Linked DNA regions of Homo sapiens. The protein of the gene in region 1 interacts with the protein of each later gene in a biochemical or structural test. Each region holds a gene or a part of one and is shown on either strand. Other genes may lie near its edges.

Region 1 (4,837 bases):
GCAGTGCAGTGTGAACAGGGCCCATGGTGTATTCTAGGCCACAGCCCAGCACTCCTCTGGGCTGCTCTCAAACCATGTCCCATCTTCAGCATCCCTCCCACCAACTTACTCCCCTGTGGTGAGTACCGTGGAACCCCAGCCCACCTCACTATCATACTCAGCTTCCCCTGATGGCCCATCCCAGCCCCTGAAGCTCTATGCCAAGAACACAGCTACCGCACACCACCCTGAAACAGCCACAGCCAAGGTAGGCATGCATATGAGGTCTTCCCCATACCCTCTGGGTGTTGAGAGGTTTAGCCACATGAGGGAGCAGAGGACAATCTCTGCAGGGCTGGGAGTGGGTAGGGACTGAAGGTCTCAATAAACCTTCAGAACCTGAATGAACTGGCTTCATACACACAAACATATTTGTTTATCCCCCAAATGTAGGCACCTGGCTCCTCCTTGCTCCCCTGCTGATGGTGTCCTACCCCGAACTCCAAAAATTACACCTGGAGTCAGGTGCAGAAGGGAACCTTGTATTTCACAGGCCTCATTTTGATGGCAAAAAGACAGTGTAATAATAACATAATAATAATAAAAATATAATACTGAAAAGGATTGTTCAGGGGGAGTTGGGGTCTCCCGATCCTGCCATGGCTCGGTGGTGGCTCAGGTGGCTGCTTAAGGCTGAAAGGTGGGTCTGAGATGAACCTGCAGAATAATCCAAGCCGAGCCTCACCTGCTGGGTCCAGGGCTAAAGCCTTTGAGAATGCTCCCATGGATCCTGGAACTAGGTCTACTGTGGCAGCAAGGCACAGGCTGGGGGCCTCAGGGGTCCTGGAGGTCAGGCAGGTCAGCCAGCAGCATTGGGGAGTCCATCTGGATCTCACGCTGCAGGGACTCAATATCGGCAGGGTTCATGCCATGGCCTTCGAGCCAGTCAGCAAGCAGGGAGGCTGAGAGAGAGGCTGAATCTGCCTGGCTGCAGGGGAAGGAAAGGGAGGGGTGCTATTAGCCTAGGCTGGACCCTCACCCATCCCACAGGTGCATGTCTCCTGCACCAGGAACCTCTCCCCACAGTCCCAGTCTAGGAGCTCAGTCCAGCCACCTTACCCATCCTGTGGCCCATCAGCCACGCCCATGTCGAAAGACTGGTTTAAGAATTCCTCCAGGTCAAAGCCAACACCGTAGCCAGCCCCACTGCCCTTTGGTGTGCCTGAGAACACAGGGGGCAGGGGGTCCTCCACCTGCAGGGAATGACAGGTTACAATGCAGACAGACTGAGGTCTGTAGGCCACCCTGTCCCAATGCTGCTGACTACTCCGCCTGGATATCTGGGAGTGCTAACACCAGTCTCGGCAGTCAGTGAGTGCTGGCTGGCCCCATCTCTGGGCTAGGCACTTTGCAGGCCATATTTAACTTGTCTCCTAACAACCTCTTCATTGCCATTATGCTCCTTCTGTGAGCAAGAGGACACGTTCAGAGATAAAGCCCCATCTGCTGCTCAGTTTTTGTGGAACACTGACCGCTTCCTGAACCCATTTTCCTTTGGCCCAGACCCAGGTGTCCCCATGGCCTGGGCCTCCCTCTCACCTGTGACTTAGATAGCTGCTGGGTCACAAGGTTGACATCAGGTGACTCTGACATGGAAGACTGAGGGGCTCCCCCGGCGTCTGGGGGCGGCAGGCCAGGTGGGAAGTAAGGCAAAACTCCTGGGGTGCTGGAGCCAGGCAGCCCAGGGGGTGGCACAAGTGACTGGGCAGCCAGGAGGCTGGTGGAGGTGGCAATCTGGGGTGGCGCGGGGACAGGGATGGGCCCAGGAGGGCCAGTGGGGTGGGGTGCAGGGCCAGGGGGTGGGCAGGCAGGCTGGGGTACAGGGCCAGAGGTAGAGCCCGCAGATTGTGGTTGCGGGCCAGTGGGCTGGGCTACAGGGCCAGGAGGAGGACTGGTAGGTTGGACTGGGGTTGGGGTTGGCGTTGGCGCTGGGGCAGGGGCCGGCACAGAGGTGAGGGCTGGGGCTGCGGGCCGGGCCATTCGAGTCCAGCGTTCCAACAGGCTTCTGTCATTGTCACTGAGCACTAGTCCAGCCAAGGGGTCAGTGGAGGGGCCCCCAGAGGCCCCAGCCCCCCGTTCCTTTCGCTCCCGCTCCTGCCGCCGTTTCTCCCGCTCCTTGGCTCGTTCTTGCCGCCTCCGCCGCTTCTCCTCCCGCTCCCGCTGGCGCTCCTGGGCTGTCACCGGCTTCCGAGGCTCAGGAGCCTCCAGGGGTGCGCTGGGGCCATCTGCGGGGAAGTTGGGCAGGGGAGAAGGTAAAAGCCTGAAGCCTTGTCCAAGTCCAAGTCTCCCCTCTGCCCACCCGACCTGCCCACAAGGCACCTCTGAGCCGGCTCCTCAAAGACTTGAGCAGGGCAGCTTTAAGGGCAGCCTTAGTATTGTCTGAGATGGCACCATCTTTCTTTGGTGGGGCAGGCTCACTGACTGGTGGAGGTGGCTGCAGGGTCAGATCAATGGTGTCAGGTGCAGGGCCGGGGCATGGTGGCGGGGCTGGTGGTGGAGACTCCATGGCACAGTCCCCACTGGGAGCCCAGGGACTGGGCATTTCAACATCTGGACAGCCAGGCTCACTAGCCACAGGCTGTAGAGAAGGCTGGAAGCGGATCTGTTGGCGGATGCCCTCACGCCTTGCATGGAAGTCCTCAATTTCAGCCACAATGGCCTCCTTAATGCGCTCCCGAGTGAGGGCTTCGCGGTCAAAGGCAAAGTCAAAGGGCGGGGCACAGTCAGGCTCATCATCAGGATCATGGTACTTGGCCAGGAAAGGGTGGCGAAGGGCAGCAGCTGCTGAGATGCGAGCGCTGGGCTCAAAACGCAGCATGCGACCCAGCAGTGATAGGGCCTGGCGGTCGGCACCTGGGTACACTGTCTCCCAGGGCACAGGCTGGCGTGGTGGCAAGCTCTGGATATAGGCCCGCACCCTCTCAGCCCCCACAGCCTGAATCACGGCTGGTGATGGGGTACCCAGCACCATCATGATGAGCTGTAGCTGGTGTACATAGTTTTTGCCTGGGAAGAGCTGGCGCCGGGCCAGCATCTCACCAAAGATGCAGCCCACAGACCAGAGGTCAATAGCCTGTGTATACTCATGCAAAGAGAGCATGAGCTCGGGCGCACGGTACCAGCGCGTGGCCACATACTCAGTCATGAAGTACTGATGTTCAGCGGGCGAGGTGCACAGGCCACGAGCCATACCAAAGTCACCAATCTTGAGCTCACAGTTCTCATTCACCAATAGGTTGGAGGGCTTCAGGTCACGGTGGATGACCTGAGCCGAGTGCATGTACTTCAGGCCCCGCAGCAGTTGGTACAGGAAGTAGCGCACGTGTTCCAGTGTGAGGGGCTGTGAGGAGTGGATGATCTGGTGCAGGTCGCTTTCCATCAGGTCCAGGACCACGTAGCTGGAAGGGGAAGGAAGGAGAGAAGCATGGGTTGGCCTGATCACACTCCAGGGACAAGCCCCATCCTCACCACACCCTTCCGATTCCAGACAGGTAACAGCCTTACCCTGGGACCCCATAGGGGCTGACGGCATGGTATGGAAGAAGAGCATCACGTTTTAGATTCTCTACGACTTTTCCATGAACTTGGTTAAATCACTTTTGTCTCCAGACCTAGTTTCCCCATCAGATAAAAGATGGGGTTGGACTACACCAGGGCTGGCCAATAGGTTTCCTTTTGGGGCTATCTCCATTGTTTGGTAGTGGCAGCTTGAAGAACTATGATGAAAATTGACCAGGCTTGTCCACTGTCTGTAGGAAAGTGTTCTGTGATTGATTAGTGAAGTCTGCTATGGGAATAGGAGGGTGTGGTCATAGTAGGAATGTCCTACATTTGACATCCTATATACTAAGATTCTATAAAACTGTAAAATCATCTGTACACTTCTTGAGGAATAACAGTTGTCCCTGGCAAAACTCTAAAGAACTGGTCCTAGAACTGCGGGAATTTTCCCAGCCTGCTTCAGATTAGATTCAGCTGCCTTTCCAGAACTTCGGCAACATGGTTGCAGCCTTCAGAAAAGTCCCAAGTCTGGCTCCCTCTCCCATCCCGCTTCTTACACAGATTTGAATTCGCCATAGGGCACGGTGGGCCTCAGGATGTCCTTGATGGCGATGATGTTGTCGTGTTTAAAGTGCTTGAGGATCTTCAGCTCCCTGAGGGTCCGCTTGGCATTGGTCACCACATCGAAAGCATTAGGGATCTTCTTGATGGCCACCTGCTGGCCTGAGGAGCAGGGAAAAGGGACATACCAGAGGATACCTTGGAGAAACTGCAGAGTCGACTCAGCCCCTATCAACACCTCCCTTCTAGGATGCAAATGACAACAGCTACCAAGTATTGGGTACCTACTATGTGCCAAGCCCTGTGCTAAGCATGTTACCTACATTATTAAATGTTACCTTCACAACTCCCCTGCGGGGCAGGTCCCAATAGGTCAACGTTAAAGAGAAGGAAATATGGCTTAGTAACTTGTTGGAGGTTGCACGGATGCCCAGTGGTGTAGCTCAGCCTCTTATGCCTACACCCTCTCCATCTCAGACCTCACCCATCCCACCACCAGTTCCTTATGCCAGTGTCTGGCTCCAGAACACATTTCTCTCTTAGACACGAAGGACTGGCTCTCCATTCTGGTCTAACTGGGACTATCATTTTCCTAAGGAGGAAGTAGGCAGGCAGGATGGCAAAACCACCAGGCCGGAGTTTCAGAGAACCGAGCCTCCCCGGAGCCTGGCAGGCAGAAGGCCCTGGTCAGTGTGTGTTGACTGGAGCCAGAACTCGCACCCCGCTTTCCTTCCCG
Region 2 (7,460 bases), on another chromosome or scaffold:
GCATTAACAAAATACTATATACTGTTTTGCACTTCCACATTTGAAGGTGCCAAAGAAGAGTTGCAAACTGTGAAGTAACTTCTATGAAGAGATGAAGTAAAGAACGGAAGGCAAATGATTGTGGCAGTAAAGAAGTGTATGTGGTGAGTGCTCACATTTGTTTTTATCATTTACCACAGAGTTACCATAAAGGTAAAACTGCCAAACTCCTTGGCCTTAGGTATTTACAGAATAGACGTGTATAACAATAATAAAGAGTTAAATGACCACCATACACTTTATATTATAAGCAATGACATATCATTTTGCTTAAAGATCATGTCATCTTTCAGGGCCTACTTTTGCAAGTACTGTATCTTATAAAATTAATCTATTTCATGGGAAGTCCTGTGTATCATCAATACTATAATTAGACAAAGATTAAAATATGTAATGCTATTGGAATTTGTGTTTCACTGCTTTTTAGATTTTTCTAAACCACCATGTTCACTTATCATGTTTGTGTTAAAAGTATTCTGGCTGAGGAACAAATACTATACAGTTGAATAATCTTAAGGGGTACATTAATCTATAGCCTTTCTTCATCTCAGGGTGGGTTGCTGTGGCAACCGCCCCAGTTCACTTTAAAATAATTTTTAAAGCTCACTTCAAGAGCTACACCCAGCGTGGGCCAGGCTTAAAAGCAGGCAGACCCAGTGCACAGGGCTTTAGTGGACCGCTGCTTTAATGTAGGGAAGTAGTGAAGAGAGGAGGTTGGAGTAAGATGGTATGCAGCTCTGAACAGAAATTGCAATATTAGCTTTCCCTGGAGTTAAAATCCCGAGGAGCATGCTCTCTGTAACTTCTATGACACTTTAATTAAATATATTGCTAAACATAATTCTTTTGAGGGAAAAACAAGTGACTCTATATTTACATTAACAATAAAGCATTTACAACTTAATGTAGGAGAAATATTTGGTGATTAGAAAAAAATAAAAGCTGGTACAGTAGTACATCAATCCCAGACATAATTTTCTTTTAAAGGAATTGTCACCTATTATTTAACTGGATAGACCCTACCTTCCAATTGGTTTAAAGGGTAGAAACATTTTCTGTTTTCCAATGATAGAACTGGAATAGGTTACAGAACTCATTTAACACATAAGCGAACTGAAGCCTAGAAAGGACAAATCCCTTAGTAAGGCACAAATTTTGAACTAGATAGAGAATCCAGGTCTCCTGACACCTAGTACAAGCTCCTCCCTACATGAGAAAATAGTCTGATCCTAACCAAGTATCATTAGATGGCAAGGATCAGGATGATTTTAAAGAAAAAACAAAAACAGAAACAGAAACCAAAAGTCCAGAAGTATTTAAAGAATACAAAGCACACTCTGGATTAACTACTTTGTGGATTACTCATGAATAATTTTAAATCTCAGGTGATTTTCTAATGTATATTTCTTCATATCTCTTCTGCTTCAACTGTAAAGGCTCATGGGAAGAAAACTAATGGTAATATTAACTTAGGTCACACATAATTAAGAAGCTAAATCTGCTGAGGGGAAAATCCTGTATTTTAAAAGGCCAACTGTGATACATTCCAGATCCAAATTATTTTCAAATTATCCAGTGTGGGGTTATACTTATTTTTGAATGCTTGCAGTATCATTAATAATTATGGGTTTGTTATAATGGGTATTATTAAATAATTATTTAAAATATGAAAAGGTAAAATAAAATAATTTCTTTTTGAAAGAACATCTAAAACTGAAGTGTACTGTGGTAAACAGAAATACCCTCTATAATTCATTAAAAACAGCAGGGCTGAAATTCATGTATTGGCTATGTGTTTGCTCATGTCAAATAGACTGTTGTAACTCACTGCATTAATTTTAGGTATTATGGCAATAAACTTAGATGGTCCTTCAAATGCTTTGCTTTTTCAGGACCTTCGTGAATCTTGAAGAAAATTAATTTTATTTTTACCACCATATATAGACATATCTTAGTATTCGAAATATCTTTGCCCTTTAAATTTTTGGATTTTCAGAGAAGTTGTACTTTGAATGGAAACCTGATACAGATGTTCTCTGCCATATTATTAAAATGAATTCATGGTAATGGCAAACTCAACATTTGAAAAACCGGCAAACAAAATACATTGTAAATACTAATCTGCAAGAAATACTACTATTTCAGATGGTTTTTGCTTTGTGACAGTTTGTGATGCATTCCTATAATAAAAGGGAGGGAATGGTCTTAGTTTTGCTGATAGTCACAATGATGAGCTGGAACTTGAAGATTGTTCAGATCTAGTTGTACTTGCCTATAAAATAAACCTTCCCCTTTCAAGTGAAGCCTTGGGACAGTTGCCTAAATGTTGAGGCCACTCTTCTGAGAGAAGCTACTCACATCAAATACCTCCTACATTGAAGCAGGAGGCTTTTTGAACCATACTGTCCTCATATATTAAAATAGTCATCTGGAGGCATATTGCTGAACTTAACAGGAAATACAACTAGTCATTGGGTTAAACGTAGTGCTAAAAGGAATTTTCTAAAGTGAGGAAATCTTTAGTTAGCTAGATATTTCAATATACTATTGTCTAATCTCATATATTCCATGTTCTATTAATTTTCCCTTCTTGCTTTCACAATATTTTTTAAAAAATAGTTTGGTTTAAACATTTTATGTAATCTATAATTCTACTGGCATGCAATCTTGTCTTTTCATGATTCTATACTAGTTGATGTATTTTATCTTTGGCTTTATTGGGCATGGTATATATTAACAGTTGGTTAGGGCGGGAGGTGCCCAATCTCTAGTAGCCTAAATATTAAAGCCTTTTTTTTTTTTTTTTGTAAGGAAAAGTGTTTATCATGCTTTAACCTTAACATAAGTATCCTCCCTTATCAGTCTCTATTTCTGCTTCCTGTGCAGCTGAAACTCTTCAGGATAAGTGAAGTCATCAGCTATCGGCTAGGGTAGCCTAATGCATTTGGGAAGTTGGTTTGGTTTACATGTTAATGACCTGGATGAAGTCCAGTAAGGTGTGGAAAAGATAGAGTGGGGGGAGGGGGGGAACTCCGAGGAAGCTGCTTCCTCGGTAAATATTTCCAAACTGATTAGAAAGTTCATGGCCCCGCGATGAAGTCGAGATCTCAAATACTGGTAATTATTTTATTATTTCGTACATTACTAACATTAGAGAAACCTTTCGGCTCGCTTTCTAGCGCTCCAACCTCTCAGGGTGAAAACCGCGACTTCTGGGCGTGCAGGAAAAGCACGCTGGAATCGAGTGCTGCAGACATCCTGGACCGTGGTTTTTACGCGTGAGTAACGGAGGAGCGCACCGACCGGTGGAAGAGAGAAGTGGCTAACGCGTGTCCAAAAGGGGGAAAAGTCACAAGAGCAACTATTAGGGTCGCGCTCCTATTGGTCAGAGGAAAGATCCCGACTTTAGAAGGACTTTCCTGCTGGCTGGCTCGCAGCGTCCCCGGAGAGCAAGCGAGCGCGCCGCAGCGGGAGACTAGGTTCTCTCCGAGCGTCCTCCGCAGAGGCGCCGCGAGAGGAGCAGGGAGCCGCAGCTCGCCGTGTTGTCTTCATTTCGTGCAATAAAGAATTGTCATTAGGTTTGCGTATGGCATGTGCTATTACCCCACCGTAAAACTAAAATTAGCAAAATGTCAGGAATGGAAAGATTGATTCACCAAGATGCAATTATCATTTAAAAGTGCTTGATTGAGGTACTGATGTTCAGTGATTTATTCTGCATACCATATACATAATTAAAGTAGTGTAGTGGAGTAATTTATCAATCTAGTTGAGACTGGAGGGGTGAGGAGGGAGCTGCTGTATGTTTGTTTTATTAAAATGCTCCGAGGTCTAGTCCCGCCCCCCTTTTGCAAGAGTGAAACTGATGATTTCTCCAGCTCGCGAGGAAAGAGTCAACGGTTTGGGATTGTGGGGGAGAGAGAGACGGAGAGAAAAAGGCAGCGCGAAGCAAAGGCAAGGACAAAATTAAATAAAGGGGGAAAAAAGGAGGCAAAAGACATTTCATCGGACGTGCTGCTTAGAACCCCAACCATTCGTGCTCCGTCTTCCCTACCACCCCCGCCTCCCCTCCCAGTATCCTTCAATCCCCCCCGCCCCCACCACCCCCAGTCTTTTTTACGCGATGTTTCAAACGCTGTGAGCTGTTCTCCTTTTCCCATTCGTCTTCTGTCACTTCCTTCCTGGACGCAGTTTTCTGGACGAGTCTGGTTACTTTTAATCCGACCGGCCGCTGAGAGCCACTTTCTCCTCCTCCTCCTCCTCCTCCTTCTCTTCCTCCTCCTTCTTCCTCCTCCTCCTCCTCTTCCGAGCGGCCTCGGCGCGCGCGAATGCGCGGCCCCGCGCCCCCCCCCTCGCGCGCGCTCCCCTCGCGCGCGCGCACACACGCACACATCGTCTCCAGCTCTCTGCTCGCTCTGCTCGCAGTCACAGACACTTGAGCACACGCGTACACCCAGACATCTTCGGGCTGCTATTGGATTGACTTTGAAGGTTCTGTGTGGGTCGCCGTGGCTGCATGTTTGAATCAGGTGGAGAAGCACTTCAACGCTGGACGAAGTAAAGATTATTGTTGTTATTTTTTTTTTCTCTCTCTCTCTCTCTTAAGAAAGGAAAATATCCCAAGGACTAATCTGATCGGGTCTTCCTTCATGTAAGTACCCCTGATATTTCTCGAGGAAATAGAAAACCCGGGTATTGTCTCTAAAATCTGCATCAATATATTCCACGGCACTGTGTCTATCTATCCCTGTGCCTTTTTTGAAGGCTGAAGTTGAGGCTCGTTGTGCATTCTTTTTCGTTAGATTCCATGATTTCCTTGTTTGTTGCTAAAAGTAACTTTTTAGATAGTCGTATCCGTTTGCCATCAGCTATTGAAATCACTCCTGACTCGTTCCTGTCACACCAGTGTATTTAAAGTTTCATGAAGTTAGTTCACGTCATTAGCATGTTTGATATGGTGGAGCGTGTGGAGCCTGGTGGATTTTAATATTTCACAGCATGTTCTGTGACCTTGAAGTAGACGCCTTAAGATTTAGCAGTTAGTTCACTGTGGAAAGATGCTCCCATGAGTCCCCCCAAAGACACTGATTTGCCCTGGGTTATGCTTCTGAGCCACTAATTCTTGGGATTAGTTTGACCTAAAGCATGGCTGTCTGTCAGAGTATACCTTTGTGCATTTCCTTCCCTCACCAAAGTGCCGGCTTGACAGAGGGCTTCTTAATTGGTGTGGACAAAAAGTAATATCCCTGCCATAGTAGTCTACACATTTCACAATTCACGTTCGATTTCAGCATATGGATTGCTGTTCAGGTCAAGTCAAATACATAGCTGTTTAAAAGCAAGCAAGGTTAAGTCACTTAAATTGCCTTCTCTTTGGACTTGGAATGAAAGTTACCAAACTCGATGATAAAGTTTGTCACAAAGGAAGTATATATAGATGTGGCACATTGTTTATTTTATTATTAAATATTGTGGAAGTATTTAAATTTAATGCTAATGTTACCTTCCTTCCCTGAACATGGCTATTGCTTTTTAAAGGAAATTTTATATCTGAATCACTTCTGACTATTCTAAGTCCAGTAGTTATCATTCTTTGGGGAGAGCCTTTTTTTGTCACATTTTAGGAATGCGTGTCTTTTGTATAAAATACTTTATATGTAAATGCTGACAGTAGACTAAGTAGAATTGGGCTCTCTGCCAGTTCCTTAACCGGTCCTCAGTGGAGAATTGCTTTGACACAAAGTGCGTTTTACTATTGTGAATCTGAAACTAACTCTAATAGTAACTGTCTTATGAAATGCTTGGGGACTGCATATAATTTCTAAGTGCTATAAAGGAAACTCCAGCCACCTCATTATACCAGTCCAAAAAAAAAAAAAGCGACTAGCCTACTTTCACTGGCACCTTGCAATGGAATTGTGGTTGCAGAGTAAAGATGTTTATGTGGAGTATAATAACTCCAATCCCTAGAGACTTGGTAGGACATGGAAATGTGACCACCTGTGAACCCCGTTTAACCTCGTATTGCATACCAATTTTAGCTTTAAATAGATCAACAATCTCTAATTTGAAACTAAAACATCTTATTTAATTTTAAAAAATGTCAGTTTTGGCTAGTCTTTAAAAACATTCAGCATGTACCAATATGGTATAAGCAGTATTTTTGTTTCTCCATCAGTTTCAACTAAAGATAATGCAGTTAAAAAGCCATATTATTGTCTTCCAGTGTATGCATGAAATTAAGTTAAAAGAAGTAGTTCTAAAGCAAGACTCAGAACTTGATAGGTAAAATGAGATGTCCCTATCTAACATCCTATTTCAAGAGGAAAGAAATATTTTAAATCAAATATCTCATTCTATTTGTAGAAAAGTACATTTAGCTATGTATTCTGCTACTAACTCAATTCTAAAAGTTTTCATCAAAACAGTCTTTAAACATAACATTTGCTTAAAATTTGGTTCTCCCGTCAAAGAGACAGTAGGTGGCTGTTACCTTTACTTCAAATTTTACTAAATTTTATAAAAACCTACTATTTTTATTAATATAATTCACACAGCATTCGAATGTTTGACTTTTTTTCAGACTTCTTAGGAAAGGCAGCATTTTACTTCATTCATTAATTGCACCATTTACGTCCTGATTGCTGTGCATGTGGAATATATTGAAAGATAATATTAAAGTGTAAGTTTTATTAAATGTTAATTTGTTTTTTATTTCAATAACAAATGAGCAATTTATAATAAAAACAGTTTTCCACCTTTTCTGAGCTATTCATATTTTAAAAGTGTGCAATCACAGATATTAACTTTTCAAGAGAGAAGCACATTAATACTAGATAACTCCATGAAACTTAGATAACAAGAGGCACTTTGCCTCTTTTCTTCTTTGTAAACATGTTCATTTTGAAAAATTTGGGGGAAAAGATACCTGAAATTTTTTCCTTGGCCCTAACTTAACGGAATCAATAAATTCCATAACACTGCAAACGTATCTTTCTAATAAATACTTTATTTAAACTTCTTTTATAAAGAACAGCACTGAATAACTCCTTAGCATATCTTAACATTATCTTTTAAAACTTTCTTCTGTTTATTGTAGTATATTTTGTGGTTTTATTTCTCAACTCTAAAGTGTGGTATAATTTGAGTCTATGAAATCTCAGAAAGTGACAAAAATGGGGAAATAGCTGTGCAGCAATACTTGTGCTACATAACAACAAAGACATAGTTATTAAACAGAATTCTGGCTTTGGGGACATGATTCGAAGCAACATAGAAGAATTTAATATGCAATTAATGGTCACAAGATGAACTGTTAAGAGATTATTAATAAAGTTACACTTTTTTTTCAAAAGCACATCCTCTGAGAAAATACCACACAAATTAATATCTAAAACTTATCAAAATACACGTATTCATTC
Region 3 (7,000 bases), on another chromosome or scaffold:
CCTCAATCACATCTGAAAACAGCACACATGGTGGGGCTGGAAATCAGTGGGCCCAGTCTCCCTTCCTCCTTCCATCTGCATCAATCTGTTTCCATCGGTGCTTCAGAACCAGCGCCTGTTTTAACAGTCTGGCATCAGAATCTTATTTTAAATGCATCAAAATTCACTGTGAGAGCCAGCACTCCGGTCGTGGGAACAAGACCCTACGGAATTCCTCAGTGGGTCTTCAGGGGCCCCATGGGATGGGGCTGCAGTATGGGTACACAGACTTCACCAGTGTGAAAGCTGAGGTCATCAGCCATGGAGGCTAGAGGCCTGGGCTGCTTGGGAAGCATCCCAGGAGCAGGGAGCTAATGAGTAGGGATGGGAAGGAGGGAGGAGGAGGAAGGGGCTGTCGTTCTGCTAATCAGAGCGGACAACCCTGACCTGCCTCTGTTCTGCTGTTGACCTCTGATGTGACCACAAGGTTGGGGACTAACAGTTTGGAATGGGAGCTAGAATTCAAGGATGAGAAGTCTTCCTGTCCACTGCCTCAGAGGCCTGCTTTCCATTCCTAAAAATGCAGGATGGCACAGCCAGATGGCCGCTCTGACCGTGGAGGCCAATCAGCCCATTTTACAGATGGGGACACTAGAGCTTAGGAAGGGACCTGTTCCTAGGCCACACTCACTGCACAGTCAGAGATAGGGACGGGACTTTCTCTGCTGTTCCACACTGCTTCCCCTTGGAGGAGCAGTCTATGAGAGCAGCGGTTCTCAAACTTGAGCATGCACCAGCATCACCGGGAGAACCTGTTAAAACACAGACTGCTGGGCCCCACCCTGAAGATTCTGATTCCAGAGGCCTGTGGTAGAGCCCACAGGTCTGCATTTCTAAGAAGCTCCCAGGGGATGCTGATGCCGCAGGTCCTGGACTACATGCTGAGTAGTGCTGGGCACTCCTTGGGACGGCTGAGGGTGAGGGCAGTGCAGGAAGAGCCAAGGGCCATGCTGTGAGGGGTCTGGTGGCCTGAGGACCAAAGAGCAAAGCTGTGGCCAAGCAGAGGTGTCTGTGCAGCCAGGAGGAAGGAAGCAAGCTTTGGAAGGTCAGGCTTTGGAAGCAGGGACATGCATGGAACATCAGTTTCTGTCTTTGCTGATGAGGCCCCTCTGGGATGAAAGGAGAAGGGAACAGAGTTGGCCTCTGGGCAGGTGGAGGGTGGGGGACCCTAACCTCATGAGGGGCAGTTTGGTTTGGAAGGCACTTTGAGTTGCCATGGGCTGCCAGGGCTGTAGCCAGCATCACCTCAGACTGTTCTGTGTGGGAGCTGTCAGCAGGTGTCCAGGGGCAGGGGCTGGGGTCAGGGCAGAGCTGTAAGGACACCCAAGGTAGTGGCAGGTGGGATGGATGGGGCAAGACCAGGGCCACCTAGAGAGCCCAGAGGTCATGCCTTCCTCACTCAGGACCTCCCTGGTTCTAGCTCCTGGAAGGAGGGGCTAATAGGAGTCTGGTGCACACCTAGGGTGATGGGTGCTCAGCTTTGGAACCTTCTCTGTAGGATGTTTAGAGAAGGGAAATTTGGTCCCAGAGAAAGGGAACTGATTCTGAACCAAATGACAACTGAGGGCTGGGTACCAGGACCTGGGAATGCTGTGATGGGTGGGGCCTGGCTCAGGGACCCCATCCCTCTCTGCCCACCAGAGACTCCAAGCTGGTCACCCCCTCCTCTCAGCTCTGCTGGGAGGCCCTCTCTGCCAAGCCACGGCCAGCAAGTGGGGTGGAGACTCCTTCTGCCCGTGCCAGCGCCGGACCCTCCAACAGGCCTTCAAAGTAGGTGCCCAGAGCCTGCAGGTTGAAAGCAGGCTGGGCAGGGGGCAACGTGGTGGTCTGCAGGCTTAGATAGCGGCTGTACTTCTTCAGGCCCCCCTGCCGGTCACGGCGGTGTGCACTCAGCAGCTCCATGAAGCTCACGTTGTGTAGGGCCAGGAGGCGGGCCTCAGCCCGGGGCAGCACAGCTGCCTGCACCAGGGGCTGCAGGGAGGCAAAGCACTGCAGGCTACTGAAGGGGTAGACATGCTGGGCCAGCTGGGGGCCCGGGGAGACCTCGAGGAGGCGGCACAGGTCACGCATGGCCAGCACGGCAGCCATGGCGCTGCGCTCGCTCATGTTTCTCGCCAGGTAGGTCTGGGCCAGGTTCTTGAGTTTGAAGCTGCTGGCCCCGGGCACACGCTCCCGGATGAGAGGCAGGGCAGCCAGGAAGCCCGAGATGGCCTCCTGGAATTCCCACAGCCTGTTAATGTCCTCCAGGGCCCGGAAGAAGTTTGGGAGGCCAGGCCCCCACAGCTTGTAGCAGGCCAAGATAGGGCGGCGCATGGAGCTCAGAAAGCTGAGGAAGTGCTGCAGCCCCACCTCCAGGGACACGGCCTTGGAGTAGATGCTGAAGAAGGCTTCAGGCTGGATGACCACGCGGAACTTGCTTTCCCGGTTCACCGCAGCCAGCTGGCTAATCTTCTGGGCTGGGCAGGAGAGAAGGGCAGGGTGAGGACCCAGGGTCACAGAGAGCTCTGGGGTGGGAGCAGGGGGTCCTCTAGGGCTGCTGACTCACCATCTAGAGACCTCACCTTGGGGTCTGCTGGCAGTAGCCACACATCAGCCCCCAAATGCAGCTCTGATCCTGGTTGTGGTGGGATAGCAGTCAGAAGGGGAGGCTCGGCTGCCCTCCAAACACTTTGTTCACCAGCTGGGGATCCAGCTCTCCCCTCCTCCACTACCGGCCCCAGAGTTGGCCAAACCCCATGGATACAGGTCCCTCCTGTCTTCTATCAGCCTCAGCCACCTATACTAGAGATCCCAGGCTGCTTGAACTTAGCTCTCCATCCCATGCTCCTTCCTCCAATCCCCTCAAGGACCCCAGCCCAGTCAGAGCCCTGGGACATAGAAAGCACTCCACTCAGAGCAAGGCCAAGAGCCTCCCACTGAGGTCTGCAAATGACTTTTCTGTACCATGAAAACACTTGCTGTTTCTGTCTGGCTGGGCTAGCCCCAATGTTGAGTCCATGCCACAGGGTAGGGCCTGGGGCTCTGGCTCAAGGAGGGGCATTTGCAGAGCCAGGGCAAGCACTGGAGGAAGTAGAGGGGCTTCCAGGATAAGGGGTCTGATCCCTCTGTGACCTTGGATCTGTGGGCAGCCCTGTGCAGCCACCTGTGGGATTGGCCCTCTACTCAGAAACGTGTAGCACAGCCAGAGGCCTTACTTGGATGACAGGGCTCACGGCAATGAGCTCACGCATTGTGTTTCTGTCTAGGAGTGTGTTCCCCAGGCTCTCTGTCTGAGAGAAGAACTGGTCAGAGGTGCACTTGTGGAGGCATCTGCCTCTCTCGCACACTCAGGCACTGGATAAGGCGGACATCTTTATTCAAGCCAGCAAATGACACGCCAGGAGCCCAGGTGAGCCGGAGTGCTCTGCCCAGCCTGGCTGCAGTTGTTGGCCAGAGCTCAGAGCTCTCCTGGGCCTGGCAGATGGCTCTGCCTGCACTTCTTTTTGGGACTCAGAGACTAAATTAGAAAGGGGTGGGGGTAGCCCCAGGAGAACCCACTTTCATTGTCAATCTTGAGGTCAAAGAAAACCAGAGGTCTGTCTTCTGCTTGGGGGTCAGCAAGGTTCTCGTCCAGGACCCTGAGGGTGCTGGGGCCTTCCAGCTGGAGGTCACTGGACTCACTGCTGCTGTCATCCAGCTCTCGGGAGGACTGCAACACAGAAAAACCAAGCGTCAGGGATTCAGAGGGCCAAGGCAAGCACCTGTGCAGAACACTAGCAAGCTGGTATAGCTGGGAGCATCTGCGTGCACATGAAGGAGGGTGTACCACTGGGAAAGGGGACGTGTGCACAAGAGAAGGTATGTGTGCATGAATGGGTGTGAACTGGGTGTGTCACATGTGAGGGTTACATGTATGAACCAGGGCATACACCCTCATGAGTAGGGGAGGAAGGGTGACACACACAGGTTGTGAACGTGCATGTGTGGGAATGAATCCAAGTGCTAAATCTGTGTGTGCATGCACAGTTAAGTGTGAGCTGTGAACCTGCGTTGACACAAGTGTATGAAAGTGTGAGAGAAAATGCCAGTGGGTGTGTGCATGAGTGTGCTGTGCTGCTTATGGAGGCTCAGGGAAGGAGCCATCTGCTATGGCAGGCAGGACCTGAGATGTCTGCTCCTAATTTCATCTTTCTGAGCAGACTCAGAAGAAACACCAAAACTTGGGACGGGAGAAAGAAGCCTCATCTTGAACCCCAGATGATTCTTTGGAAGGGGTCGGGAGCCTGCCTTTTCTTGTCCCCGAAGTCAGCCGAGGTGCCAGTGTCCTACACAAAGGCGAGGGGAAGGACTGCTTGGCCTCCTGAAGGCCACATCTAGGTGGACACCCAGGTCCTTGGCAGTGAGAGAGCAGTGGAGGCTCTTGGCATCTGCCCCAGCAGCTTAGAGAAACCTGAGTTTTGGGAGTCCTTCAGGTGAGGCGTTCTCTCCTGTCCCAAGGTCCTGGTGGGAACACTGTTCGAGAAGCCATGGGGTGGGGAGCCAGAGGATGAGGGAAGGGCTCCAGCTCTGAGATTTTCCCAAGGGACTGGGACTACAGAGGGAGGTGGAGCCTCTGATGGTAATACAGAGTTAATTGCTTATCATCTGCTCAGCTGCCAAGCCCAGATGTTTAGTCTTTGATGACCAACTTGGAACCTCCCATGAATGCCACCTGTGGACGTTAGCCAGAGACCAGCAAGGAAGAGACATGGACAGGATCACAGGGCCAATTGGGAGCATGGCTGGGACAGAGTCCAGGGCAGGCCTTGGGTTTTTCCTCTTTATGGACTGCCGCTGGCTTCTCAATGAAGTTGGTGTCACCTGGTGCTAAAGCCTCAGTTAATTCTGGCCTCTGGCTAATGTCCCTGGCCTAGGAGGCAGCACATTTCCCCAGACCCTTCCAATGCCCAAGTGAAACATCTGCTTCCAACCAAGCTTCAACTGAGAGAAAAAGCGTTTCCACCCACAAGTAACCTAAGATGTGGTGGGTTTTTGTAGGAGTGGCTGGATTTCACTGGATTTGCATTTCACAGCCCTGCTCCAGGCTCATCAGCTTTCTGCCAGTTATTGTCAGAAGCAGACACTCACTATGAATCCATCTAGAGCTGGCTTTGCCTCTTCATATCCAGGGATCTAGTCAGAGAGTCTGCCCAGCGCCTCGCATCTCCAGATCCTCATTCAGCCACGCTGTCAAAAGCTGATTTCACACGTCTTGCTCCGGGTGAGCCCACACTGCTGTCTCGCCTTTCCAACTCGGTTTCCTCCCTGTAAGGAGCCTTCTACAAGGCGTCTTCCTAGCTTGTAGCTGGGTGGCTGGAGACTCCACCTTCTCCCGCTTTGGGAGAATCCAGTTGTTTCCTCTCTCCAGGCTTCACTGGGCAGCAGCGCTCTCCCACAAGCTGGTGGAGGGGCTGGGCTCCCCTTCTGGGTCCTCCCTGGTTCAGATCCTTGGTGCCAATAGCTGAGGCTGAGTCCATGCTGCCACCCACTGACATGGCACACAGGACTTTCTCTTTTTCGTTCTTCTTCCTGCTCCAAACCCAACTGGAAATGCCCCTTTGTGTTCCTGAGTGCCTCCACAAAGCTCGGGGCAATGTCCTCGGCCTTAGAACCAGTCTTCCCGCCTTCAGATCTGCTCTTCCAAGAGGAGAGCTCCCTGGAGAGCCACAGTACTGTCTCTTTAGGCCACCCCTCCCATCGTTACAGCAGGGTCATTTATGGCAGCCACTAGAACCTCGTTTTTAGAGCCTTCCATTGTCCCGGGGCCAGGGAAATGTCCTTTGTCCTAAACTTACTCGAGCTGCCTTCTCTAAGAAACCTCTACTGTCTCCTTTAATAAAAGGACACCCCCTTTCCACCAAGCTTGTTAATGGAGGAGAGGCTGGACCTTTCAGCCCTGACTCACTTCCTCCAAAATTCCTCTTGCCCTTGGGGACTTCCATAAAGTATGGCCACCCATGGAGCTGGTCTCACTGGAACTCCAGCCAGCTGTAAACCCAGAATTCTCCCCTGCTCCGCCTTAAACTCCAGCATCACAGCTGGGGAGTGCTGACGCATTTAAACAAGACTTTCTGAAAGACTCAGGTTTGCCAGCAGGGCCATCAGACATAGTGGCCTGGTGCAGAACATACTCCCCTCCCTGCTCACTAGGGGAGACTCTCCCATTCTGCCCCCAGGCCCCACACCTTGGCCTTATTCCGCAAATTAGGATAACTGGGTGTCGGGGGAGCATAGAGAGGGACAGTCACTGGAAAAGACTTAGATTTGCTTGGAAGAGAAAAGGAAGGGGGACAGAAGAAAGAAGATGGGAAACAGAGCCTTGAGCCTGCGTGTGAGGACCGGGAATCAAGGGGGAAAGCTTTGCTATGCAGTGAGAGATGCCAGGCGCCAAAGAAAAGGGGAAGAAGGACTGAAGAAGTGCTGCTGGGGTTATGAGCTGGATTCCCTTTAATGTTCTTTCAAAAGATGCAAGTAAATACTGGGATTTATTTCTTTATTATACTTGGTTAATGGACATTGTTTCTTTGAATGCAAAACTGTGTTCAGGCTGAGCCTCGTGAGAGCCAGGATTTTTTCAGGATATACATGCAACTTGGATACACCTGCAATCTGGCTCATGAGCTACATCCATCTCACTCCCCTTCCTCATAGATTTCACGGCCTGAGCAGGTCAAGTGCATTCTAACTCAACACAGCAGGTCTAACAGTCGTCCCAAGCATGCTCAGAGGAAGTGGCTGGATTGGCATTGTAATCACACTCCAAAAGTCCAGGAGGTACATCAGGGAAGATCCAGCCTCTCCCCTCCTCTGCGGTATTACACCCTGGTATGAAAATGTCACCTGCATTCAAGACTGCCACATCTATAAACAAATGAGCAGCATTCCTCTACCACAGACATGCAATGAATCCCCCGATTCAGTGGTTCTTGACTTTGGTTAGGCA

Evidence for each region.
Region 2: the proteins of MAPK7 (region 1) and MEF2C form a complex in vitro, tested with the Homo sapiens proteins (one study listed by BioGRID).
Region 3: the proteins of MAPK7 (region 1) and PML form a complex in vitro, tested with the Homo sapiens proteins (2 studies listed by BioGRID and IntAct, with this or other methods).

Annotation. Positions count from the first base shown.
Region 1 is NC_000017.11:19,379,208-19,384,044, reverse strand, and holds the end of MAPK7 (mitogen-activated protein kinase 7), read right to left. Parts: intron 4,264-4,837; coding exon 4,098-4,263; intron 3,562-4,097; coding exon of another isoform or gene 3,544-3,561; intron 3,438-3,543; coding exon 2,359-3,437; intron 2,265-2,358; coding exon 1,579-2,264; intron 1,233-1,578; coding exon 1,099-1,232; coding exon of another isoform or gene 1,095-1,098; intron 968-1,094; coding exon 814-967; 3' UTR 501-813; downstream 1-500. UniProt on the Homo sapiens protein: Plays a role in various cellular processes such as proliferation, differentiation and cell survival. The upstream activator of MAPK7 is the MAPK kinase MAP2K5.
Region 2 is NC_000005.10:88,880,185-88,887,644, reverse strand, and holds the start of MEF2C (myocyte-specific enhancer factor 2C), read left to right. Parts: upstream 1-4,460; 5' UTR 4,461-4,690; intron 4,691-6,622; exon of another isoform or gene 6,623-6,721; intron 6,722-7,460. UniProt on the Homo sapiens protein: Transcription activator which binds specifically to the MEF2 element present in the regulatory regions of many muscle-specific genes. Controls cardiac morphogenesis and myogenesis, and is also involved in vascular development.
Region 3 is NC_000015.10:74,039,716-74,046,715, reverse strand, and holds part of PML (protein PML), read right to left. Parts: intron 3,728-7,000; coding exon 3,577-3,727; coding exon of another isoform or gene 3,536-3,576; exon of another isoform or gene 3,378-3,535; intron 2,496-3,377; coding exon 1,708-2,495; 3' UTR 1-1,707.